Homo sapiens: one gene and its partners. The protein of the gene in region 3 purifies or fractionates together with the protein of the main gene of each other region. This does not show direct contact. Each region holds a gene or a part of one and is shown on either strand. Other genes may lie near its edges. The genes, in order: BPIFB2, ALDH1A1 and EBF2.

The links.
Region 1: the proteins of EBF2 (region 3) and BPIFB2 purify together in Homo sapiens (affinity purification with mass spectrometry; one large-scale study listed by BioGRID and IntAct). This does not show direct contact.
Region 2: the proteins of EBF2 (region 3) and ALDH1A1 purify together in Homo sapiens (affinity purification with mass spectrometry; one large-scale study listed by BioGRID and IntAct). This does not show direct contact.

Annotation. Positions count from the first base shown.
Region 1 is NC_000020.11:33,006,130-33,009,879, reverse strand, and holds the start of BPIFB2 (BPI fold-containing family B member 2 precursor), read right to left. Parts: upstream 2,177-3,750; 5' UTR 2,120-2,176; intron 1,340-2,119; 5' UTR 1,306-1,339; coding exon 1,197-1,305; intron 1-1,196.
Region 2 is NC_000009.12:72,943,008-72,946,657, reverse strand, and holds part of ALDH1A1 (aldehyde dehydrogenase 1A1), read left to right. Parts: intron 1-3,650. UniProt on the Homo sapiens protein: Cytosolic dehydrogenase that catalyzes the irreversible oxidation of a wide range of aldehydes to their corresponding carboxylic acid.
Region 3 is NC_000008.11:26,043,235-26,046,984, reverse strand, and holds the start of EBF2 (transcription factor COE2), read left to right. Parts: upstream 1-1,571; 5' UTR 1,572-2,125; coding exon 2,126-2,256; intron 2,257-3,750. UniProt on the Homo sapiens protein: Transcription factor that, in osteoblasts, activates the decoy receptor for RANKL, TNFRSF11B, which in turn regulates osteoclast differentiation. Acts in synergy with the Wnt-responsive LEF1/CTNNB1 pathway.

The DNA of each region.
Region 1 (3,750 bases), on a different chromosome or scaffold from region 3:
GGGAGGACACTGGAAGTAGCCACTCAGCCCAGCCTGGGGAGCAATGCGTCCAGCGTGGGCCTCCAGCCAGATTTCTGCCAAAAACAAACACAGGCAGGCAAGCTGGGGAGGGCTCCCTGGGGACAAAGGAGGCTTGCACAGGATGGGCAGAGGGCAGGAAGGCGGCGGAGGGCGCGGGCCTCATGGCCCTACCTGCAGGCATCCATGAATGGCTCCATGTCATGCTCTGGCACGGATCACTGACCCCTTTCATTGCCTGCCCATCAGCCCGGATATGAGGTCCCGGAAGGCTGTGTTTACCCAGGGGTGGGGGAAACCTGCTACTTCCCTGAGCCACTGCTTCATGTCCTGGGCCACTGAAGGTCCCATCTACTGTCTGACCTGACTTTCTCACACTGTAATCTGAGTTTGGCCTTGGGGGAAACCGCTTCTGATCTCCTGGCTTTGGTGGGAAACCAAATTCTCACCGGGAGGCAACTCGAGGTGAATAAACATGTTTGTGCTGGCGTCCTGGACCTTGGCAATGTCTGTCCCTCCCTGGGGCTAAGTTTCTTCATTGTGCCCTCCTTAGGGGATTGGGGCAAGACTTGGAAGGATCTAGCAGCACAGCCGTAAGACAGAGCCCTCGCACAAGTGGGACCCAGAGAGCGGATGGTTCTCTCACGCTGAGCTCAGAAGGGATATAACTTTAGAACACTCCTTGCATCACGGTGCTAGACAGACCTCTCCCAAGAACACACGTGCGTGCACACACCACATACGCAAACGTGTACACCCAGGGTGAACAGCCGTACCTGTGCACACACATCCAGGCAGCATCATGGGCTTGCACCCTCCCCGACACTTAAGTACACACGTGGGCACAGCTCTATGAAATTTCAAACTCATAAGTAGACACACACAGGTAAAAATAGCCCCTCAAACCGACCTATGCCCACATCACCAAAGCATGTGAGCAAGTCACATGTGCACACTTGCACACTGGCCACATGACGTACTCCCCCCTCACGCATTTATGTAATAAGCATTTGTTGAGCAGCGCCATGTGTCAGGCACTGTCTGGGTGCCAGGGACACAACTTCCAATTAAAATCTGGGTCCTCATGGGCCTTTTGAGTTCACAGCTACGCACACACACTTAGGATTGCACACGCATGTACAGGCTCACAGACACTCACTGGGTAACACACCGCTTACCGTAGCTCAATGCTGCCTTGTTGAGTCGGACCACGGTGCCTGGCGTGGAGGCACCGACCACGGGCAGCAGCAGTGCCAGCAGCAGGCCCAGCCTACTTGCCCAAGCCATGGCTGCCCTGGCCGCTGCCCACAGGATCTGTGGGCTGGGGTAGAAATGAGCATCAGGGAGCTCAGCCAAAACAGCCCACCCCTGAGCCACCCGAACCCCACTCCAGCCTGGAGGGAACAAGCCCTGACTGGTGATCCCAGCCCTGCCCCAGGCCCACAGACATCAGTTTTTGCATCTCTGCATTGGGAACCATCACCTTGCCTTGCTTGCTTCATCAGGAATCATGGGGGAGTCCCTTCTGGAAATGACCCGCAATGCCCAGAGAAGAAATGGTCTTGCCTAGGGCCACACAGTGGACTGGGACCAGGTGCAGGACCCAAGCCATGGCATAGAAGGATGGTGAGACTCCCAAACGGGGAGACTGAGGGTAGTTTCCTGTCCCAAGAAGATGCCCAGGACTGTATCACCTGATGCCGGAGTCCAGCCCCGTGTGACAGCCAGCTTGGTGTCCAGCTGTCCACCAAATTCAGCCAGGGGAGGACCCAGGGTGGCTCCTGTCCTCATCCCCTCCTGGCCAGGTGGTAAATGGCCTAAGAGTAGGCCTCTCACATGGCCCCCATCCTCTCCTGACTCAGTCTGGCCAAATAGGCAGATCTGTGTCTGACTCAGGGAGAGGGAGCCAGGCAGGAGTGAGGGACTGCGGCTCAGGTGGGTCTGCTGAGACCCAGGATGGCGGCACTTGCCCAGGTCCTACAGCAAGGCCAGGGGTGGAAGGACCCTTCTGCAGAGGGTGGCTGGAGGTAGCATCCCCACTGAACAGATAGAGAAGCCAAGCCTCCTTGGAAGTGGTGTACCAGCCCAGCCCCATGCCTACCTCAGGTGGTTCCTGAGACAGGTGAACTCTCAGCCCCAGGGTAGCCCTCCTCTGCCCGAGGCAGGCAGATGCAGAGGCTACTTTATAAGGCTCCCAATGTGCAGAGTCCACTGGGAAGGGACCCAGGGAGCGGCGAGTTTGCTTGTGGTTGCAAGTGTTTTCCCTGCAAACATGGCCTTTGCCAAAGTGTCTCATCCCACATGTGCGCTGGGGCTGCCACGTAGCCAGTAGCCAGGCCCAGCTCCCAACCACTACAAGCCCCTGGGGCTAGGCAGCTATGGCCTTAGTGAGGGCCAGGAGATCTCTGGAAGGAAAGCTGCTTCTAGGAGGGTATCTTATCATGCCCAGCCAAGGCCTGGGAGGATGGGGCCCATGAGGACCCCATCCCCCCTCCCATAGGCAAGGGGATGGCTGCAATGACCCCTCAAGCCTGGTACCTCCAAGCTCTCTCGGAAACATGACCCTTTTAGGAGGGGCAGAAGGCTACCTGAGCACCATCCTCAGTCATTGACTGAGCCCTGACCCTGTCACATATTCACACACTGAGTCCTGACCCCAGTTACTGAGCTCTGACCCTGATCACATGCTGAGCCCTGATCCCAGTCACAAACTGAGCCCTAACTCAGAAGGGAACAGAAGAGAAAGTGTGCGTGACCTGTCCCCACAGCTTAACATCCCAGCCTCTCTCCAAATGCACATTCCACTCACAATGGATTAGTCCACGGTCTCTTTCCACATTACAAACGTCAGCCTCCGCCTTGGCTGGATGGGACCCAAGGAACTGTGTGTGCGCATGAAGGAATTTGCATATGCACATGTGTGGATGAGGGTTGTGTTGATACATGCATGTGAGTGTGTGTGCATAGTCACATGTACGGGGAAAATGTGTGCTCTTATGTGTGAGTGTGGACATGAAATGGGCACGTTGGCATCTTGGTTTATGGTGTTGTGTGTCTATTCACACAATCCAACAGGACCACAGAGGTGGGGAGTTTTGTGTACATGTATGCATGTGTGGGCTTGGCCTACTGAGTGTTTGTGGGTCTGTGAGTGTGTGGTGTTAGGTGCATGTGTGTATGCAAGTGGACTGTTTCCTGGGATGGGGAGGTACATGTATATATGTTCTTGTGTGTGTGCATATATGTGTGCACAGCAGGCGATGGCCTTTCCATTTTTCTTCATTGGCACAGGATGACTTGGGGCCTTTCCCCAACTCCAGGGCACTCTTTGACTCCCACTGACCCCACACCAGCCCAAATATCAGGCCCAGCTCCCAGGCCCACCCTGTGCTAGGCCTCCACCAGTGTCTACAAAGCTGACCACAGACACCATCAAGCCCTCCCCTGAGCAGCTGGAGCTCACTTGAACCAGCCCTGCCTCCCAACCAGTGCTCCCTTGCCCCTATTCTAGACGCAAAGAGGAATGAGAAGAGCCTGCTGTGAGCTCCCTGACACCCTGCTCCTGGCCTTGGTCTGTCCACCAATGCCCAAGACCGGCCCCTCCTGCGCCCTCACCATAGCTGATGCAAACAGCAGACTCAGTGGACAGAGGCGCAAATATTGACCAAACCCACTCTTGGTGTTTGCTGTTGGCCTGGACACTTCCTTTTCTTAAATATTTCCAGCACAAGA
Region 2 (3,650 bases), on a different chromosome or scaffold from region 3:
AACCATGTTCAAAAGAATTTGAGCAAGGATTGCTTCACAAACCCTTACTTAGAATCCAATAAATCAGAAAAGTAAATCTGTGTAATACTGGTTTTCCTGACGCTGACATGTTTTGGGTGTATAGATGTATATAGCAAAAGTATCCACAAACTTAGAAGCATTGCTTGAGAAGGATGTGAAGTGTTGCTAATATTGGGTTTTCTGATATTATCTCTACCTGATTCATTGTAACGTTTGACTTACTAATGGAAATTTGTTCACTGGGGAATTTGCACAAATCTCACATCTCTAAAAACTTTGCCTGAACCGTTCCCTCCCCCAACCCTGGTCCCATTTCCACTGACTATTTCCACTGCTCTATCGATACTTTTTTAGATGTCAAAGGAATACAAATAACTACTGAATTATGCTTTATATTTGGCATTCTTTTAGAAGGAAGAGGGCTTACATGCGAGCAATTCTATTACTAGGTCTTGATACTGCTAAAAATGGGCAGAACTTTCTATCGCTTCTACATCTTAACTCTGATACAGAAAATATATGATGTACAGAAGTTGCTGACAAGTTTTGTTATCATCTCTAGGACACAGTGATGGAGTGGCTCAAAACAAATGCTGTGGCATCTTTTCTCTTTCCCTGACACAATTGAAAAGGCTGATGGGGTTTTGCAAACAACAAGAAAAAAGAGTATATACTCACGTTACTAAAGTCAGACTATCATTTAAAACAAATGAAAGGAAAATTTTATTTCTCCTATTTTTTGTTTTCGTCATTCTGTCATTTTGTTTTCATTCATTTGATGACAGTTAAAAATTTTCTTTCCCTTTGTTATTTCCTCCTTAATTTCCTTTTACATTTTCTAACTTTGAGTCTCAACATTTTGCTTTCCTGCCTCAGGGTTAGGGTGCAAAGCAGTTGCCAGAGATCCAGCTTTGATTCTTTTAAATGTTTAACACCCCACCTGACTTTTGTTCAGTCTCTCCTCCTCATTATTCATCTCCGATCTCATACTCCCTGACTCCCAGCGGCCTTTAGTACTTTGGTAGGTTCCTAAGCTGAGAAAAGGTTGACACATTTACAGCACACACCAGTCTCCACAGGTTCACACCACCACCCATGCAGCCTATGCTGTGACTCAGTTCTCAAGTTTGAAAATTCACATGGATGACATTAAATGGGGACTCTCATCACCCTCCCTCTCGTTTGGAAAATCTTAAAAGAAATTCTTTGTGCATTGAAAATGTGATCTCTTAAAATCTCTCTCCCACCAAGAAAGTATTGCCTTCCTTTACAGACTCTAGGGCTGCTGGCCCAGTTGCTGCCCTGCCGAGATAATATTAATTTAAGGCACTCTGAGTATCTTTTGCAAGGAGTCAGGGGCTCCCCACTTTAGCCCACAGACTCCAAAATCTCATATCAGCAGATAAGGCAAATAGGGCTTTATTTTGCCACTAGTCAAAACTAGCTTTATCCAAGCCAGAAATATTTTGAGAAAATTATGCTTATTTATTTAGAACTGTAGATTTATACACAATACATTAAGACATAATAACTTTTACTCTGGAAAGGCAATTTTTTTCACAATTATGACTAATTCTTGGACACCAGTTGAATCCAGGAAATGGCTACTTGTTTATCAAAGGTAAAATGATGCATTTCTTAAAATGTGGCATATCTAAAATCTGAAGTGTAAAAATCCATTTCTAAGTTGCCTCAACATTTCTATTGATTGCTTCCCCATATAGAAAGTACTTGAAGTCCAAGAGTATGCATAGGCATTTATAATTTCCAATCAATATTTCAAACAGAAGGTTGATGTCTACTTTACATATATATTATTCAAAAGTCACCTAAGTCCAAAATTCATAATTAGAATTGAGTTAATATATAATGGTTACATAGAACCCAAGAATATTTTACTTTTATAGTATCATCTCTTTTCCTCTAAGCTGGCTAAAGGCAAAAAACAAATGGAAAATAATATTGTCACCATTATAGAACATTAAACAAGCCTAATGTAAATTTTATAATTATTATAACAAACATTCATTAGCCTAGACTTCTCCATATAACCATTAATATAACTATAGGAACAGTGATTATACAAAAACGTTTGGTCACACAGTTAGCTGGAAGGCAAATGCCCAATGTAAAGCTCCTATAATTAAAACAGAAAAAAAATGTATTTGAGGTAGGCCCTATGAATAAATTATCTGTAGCTAAGGGGAAGAAAAAGACTGGGCAATACCTGGCCTTCTAACCATCTAGGTCATCACATTACCTATGCCAAATTCCCTTTTCATGCTGAAACGCCTCTGTTTGTGGGAGAATGGCATAATTCATAATTTGTAGACTGCACTGTTACATCACTCTCCTTCAAAAGCCTGTGACCTTATGATAGGATTATGAAATTAGTCTCAAGGCTAATTTCTTGGACTCTGGTTGGTCTACTTCAAATCTACTTGGGATACTTTAAAATCAGTATTCCTAAACATCCATTTGATCTGGTCTCTCTCCCTTTTTATATCCAGAATAGAGCCTAAACTTCTTTCTCTGGGGATCAGGATCTGCCACAAATTGACTTTATTTTCAATGTCAGGCCTTATCTGTGACTTATGTCCACTGCAACTCCATTCTGTTGGGAGCTGCTCTGTTTACTGTGTTACAAACCTCCAAAGATTTGTCCCTCCCTTTACTCTTTTTTTTTCCTTCTTTCCACCAATCCAGTTCCATCCTTCAAAGAAGCATTCTTTCAGCCTATGCCCCTCTACACCATTTATTGACAACACCGCTGCTTTGGCCATTTTGCTCCACAGTCTTTAATTCTGTACTGGCGGCTCTTGATATGAATACATTCTCCTCTTAGATTATAAGCCCCTGAGAGCAGAGGCCATGGCTAACTCATCTCTCATTTTTCCACAATAACTGCCAGACTATGTCTCAAGTATTTACTCATTATTGGACAAACACTTTTCTGATAAAGCAAAAGTTACTAATCATGATTATATAAATGTCAACACAAGTTCAAACACAAGTTGGGCTCACAGTGTCCTCCTGTCTTAAAGGTTAAAACTGAATAATGCAGAACAGTGCTGGTAATTTGGGGTCCTCTACAGCTGATCTCTTCAGTTGCCTGCAGGCTGCCAGATAAACATGTGTTATTACTTCAGGTTAATGCTCATTTACAAAACATTCACTGGCTTTAATCTAAAGTGGCAGTTTTATGTACAGCTTAGATGCAAATTCTGATCATGGAACTAGATGGTACATACATACTGTAATAATTCTTTTACAAAAAAGTGTGTAAAGAGAGTAAAATAAGCTATAATATATTGAGAGCATATTATTGAGAACTTGAAACCACAGATTATCACAGACCTAAGGATAAGAGGACTCGGGCGAGAACTAGAAAGTCCGACCACAGGCCTAGCAAAATGTAATTGATTCTGTATGTTGTTTTATTTTATTTTTAATGAAATTACATTGTAGAAGGGTGAAATTCTGGATCTCTGCCAAAATGAAATCTGTGTTCCCTTAGTTTACAGGTACAAAATCTAAGGTGGTAATACAATCTTTAGGCAGAGAGAAGGCAGAATTCCCAAGTGAATAAATCTGATGCAGGTTTTGAAAGACTGATTTAAAAGTCTACG
Region 3 (3,750 bases):
CTTCTCTACCTTCCCCCAAATCAATGACCCCAGTCCCTGGATCCCGGGGCCTGTGCAGAGACGGTCCGTGCACCCGCCCCGCAAACTCCCTAACCCCCTATCCGTTTTCAAGCGAATCTCCGCAGTTCGGACCAGCACTTCCTAGTCGCAATCCCGCGCACGCAGCGTGGTGCCGCGGTTTGTCCCTTGGGGAGGTGGAGGCGCGCACCGGTCCCTTTCTCGAGAGAGCCGAGTTTTCTTGAAGTGCAAGCTTCCTGTCAGCCTAGGCAAACCAGTTGCAAGGCGCTGTGTCCTCTAGCGGCAAACTCTAGCAGTTCATTTGCGAGCGCTCACCTACACCTAAGGGATCTGGTCTCTCAAATCTGAGACCCAAGAGGGGAGAAAGTGCCCTGAACGCAGTCCAGGCGCTCGCAAATGCCCTCCCCGTAATGAGACCGGGAGACTGGGGCGCAATCGCTCGAACTACGAACAGCTGATTGTCTCCTCCACGGCAGATGGTCTTTGAGCACAGATTTGCATTCATTGTCTTCAAATCTGTTTTCGCGCTGGTGTTCTAGATTTCAGCAGCAGCAGATCTATGCGCAGATCAGAATACAAAAGGAGAAGCAAGAAAATGACACCCAGCCAGGAGGATGTTTAATAGGCACCGCGAGCAGCCCCGCGCAGTTAAAAAACCGTCTAGGGTTTCAGCTGTTCGGTGAGGCTGCTGCCACCGCCTGCCGGCCACCAGCCCGCGGCCAGCACCGCGGCGACCGCGCGCGGTGGGCGAAGTTTCCACGACTCCCCCGTCCCTCCCCGCCCACTACCGGGGGCTTCGGGAACGGAGAGGTGGGGAGGGAACCGGAGGACCCGCGGGAATACTCCCCGGCCGCTCGCGCACTCAGCCCGCCTCGATCTGTCAGCAACCTCTCCTCCACACGGGTGCGACTGCCGCTCGCGCCCGCCCGCCCGCGGGTGTTTTCCTTAGGTCCTGGACCGTTTTCCCCAGCACTGTATTTGAGCAGCACTTGCCCCTCGCTTGTCCGCCCCACCCCATCCCCCGCCTTCTTTCATATGTTCTCCACTCTCAGCAACGTGCAAGCCGCACACAACATCTGATATCACCATGGAACTCCAGGAGACCTGGGGAGCCATTCAGGGAGCTGGGTGCTCTGGGGGACGTTTGCGCAAAACATAAGCACATGTGGCCACGCTCACAAGCATGCACACAGATCCGAACCCCGGGAACGAACGTGCCTCCCGGCAGGCTACAAAAGCCTACATCTAGAGGCAGGATCCAGGGAGGCTTCCCGCAGCCAGGCCGAACCCCTGCGTCCCCAGCCCGCAGAGACCTGCTACCCTAAGTCAGTGCAGGGTGTGGGGGCCCCCCAATCCTGCGCAAGCACACGGGGTTCGTGCTAGGACTCGACGCCCGCAGCTTTCTGTCCCCTTTCACCTCCCGGAGTCCCGGCAACGCAGAGCGTGGCGCGCGCCGCCGGAGGACGTCGGCCCGGCTTGCCAGGCGCCGGCCAATCCCGCGCGTCCATGCAAATGAGGCTCCTTATCGGGCCGCAGCTCCGCCTCCCGCAGCCAGGGCCGTAGTAACCCATTCATGGGGCCCGCGCGCGGCTGCAGCCGGGCTCCGTGGCGCTCGCAGCCACCGCCTCCTCTCGGCTCCAGGTCTTCCCCTTCTTTTTACAACTGATCCTGTTGGGGATTTTTTTTTTTTCTAAATTGGAACGGTGGGGAGGAGCAGGGAGGGGGGACCTGGAGGAAGGGGAGAGATTAGGCAGCCATCAATTTCCTCCAGTTTCTCCCAGAACAGGTGATGCTTCTAAATTGTGATCACTTTCAGGAGGCAGCACTGCAGCTGGAAGGATGCGAGCGACCTAGGGTGGAGTGGCTGAGGCGGCAGATCTGAACTTGCGGAGGATAAGAACCCAAACTTTGACTACATCAGTCCGCACCTCGCCAGTGAAGCAAAGGACGGGTTATCTTTTTTTTTTTTCTAAGACTCAAACTTGGGCACTTGATCCCTTTTCTTGGATTGCTTTGGAGGAGACGATTTGCTGGCAACGTTGGGAACAGTCAGGACTGTGTTGTAACTCTTACTTTTAAAGCGACAGTAGAGGATCAGACTTTTTAAATGTTTGGAATTCAAGATACTTTAGGAAGAGGACCAACTCTGAAAGAGAAATCGCTGGGCGCGGAGATGGATTCGGTCAGGTCCTGGGTCCGGAATGTCGGAGTGGTGGACGCTAATGTCGCCGCGCAGAGGTAACGACACGGCCGCGCAATTATTATGCTGTCTCTCGCTCTTACGGTCTGTCTCTCCGTGTGCACCCCCCCCGCGCACCCCGTGCCTTTCTCTCTCCCTGTCCCCCCATCTGTCGCCCAGGCCCTGCGCGCTGGGGCTCGCCCTCGGGCAAGCAGATCGCTGCAGTCAGGCGAACGCTCACCCGGCAGCCGGCACTCGAGTTCCTGAACTGCCTGGGTCGTAGGCGTTTCTCTCCCTCTCCTTTACCACAGTCCACTCTTTGCAAGGAAAAATAAAGTAGCCCCCAACATCTCCCAGCTCAGCCCCTAGTCCTGCAAGCCGAGCCGGCCTGGCCCCGAACGGAGCGTGAACACCGGCGCTGGCAGTGGCGGCGCGGGAGGAAAGCCGGCTTCCTGGCCACTCTTGGCTTCGCCACGCCGCCTGCGAGCGCCTACCTCCCGCATCTTGCTGGGCGATTCCTGGAGCCTGGGAGGCCGGCGGCCAGAGGGTGGCGGCGGCGAGGGGAGCGGGAAAAGCCGGAGCGGCTGCCCGGGAAGACGAGGCGGCCGGGAGCTCTGGGAGGGGGGACAGGCTGGAGGGTCCCGGCTCAAAGATAAAACAGTGAGCCAGACGAACGGAGCTAGGGAACTGGAGAAAAGAAGAGATTTAAAAGAAGAGAAAATACTGAGTCACAGTAGAAAGAGTTGCGGAAGAAGAAAGAGGCGAGAAAAGGCCACCAGCAGCTAGACTGGCTCAGGGATCGCCAGCCTCTGGTTTTGCGGATCCCTGAAGTTGACTTTGTGTTTAGGCGTCTGCGTGCTGGGATAGTAAATACCATGTCCGGGGTGCCACCCTACGAAGACATTACGGTCCCACTCTCTCATCACCACTACTGAGTTGGGATTTGTGGCCTCCAGGTCCTTGTCTGCGAGAGAGGCAGCCCTTCTACCCCCAAAGAGCCGATGAACTTCTTCCACTACCCTCGCTTCCCCTGCTGCCCTCCTGGCCACCCACATTTAAGTGCCAACATCACACGGAGAAATGATCCCTTTCCCAAACTGGCCAGGTGTCCCGGGTAGAGCGAACCGGCCTCTACCCTTGGAGCGGAGAAAGCAGAAGTTTTATCGCTCCGGGACTTGGGCCGGCGGCGGTTCCCTCCCTCCTGTGGCCCGGGGAGCGCGGATTTCCCTCCGGCAGACCGCACAGCGCGGCGGCCGCGGCTTTCCGCAGCGCTTCGGGACTGGCCCGCCTGCGAGCTAAGGGAAATAAGGCAGCACCGCAGAGCCAACTGTGCCGCGCATTTCCTTAGCTGGGCTCCTTAAAGACGCCTCCCTCGCTTTCCTTCCTTCCCGGGATCAAAAAGTTTGTTGAAGCTGGAAGGAGCAGACTTAGTGGGGGAGAGCTTAGCCAAAATGTTACCCCTTTCAAAAGAGTGAATGAAGGTGCTTGCGCACCGGGGTTCAACCTGGGAGACCCCAGCGCCGCAGGGCAGCTCCCGCAATCTGTGCGTTCAC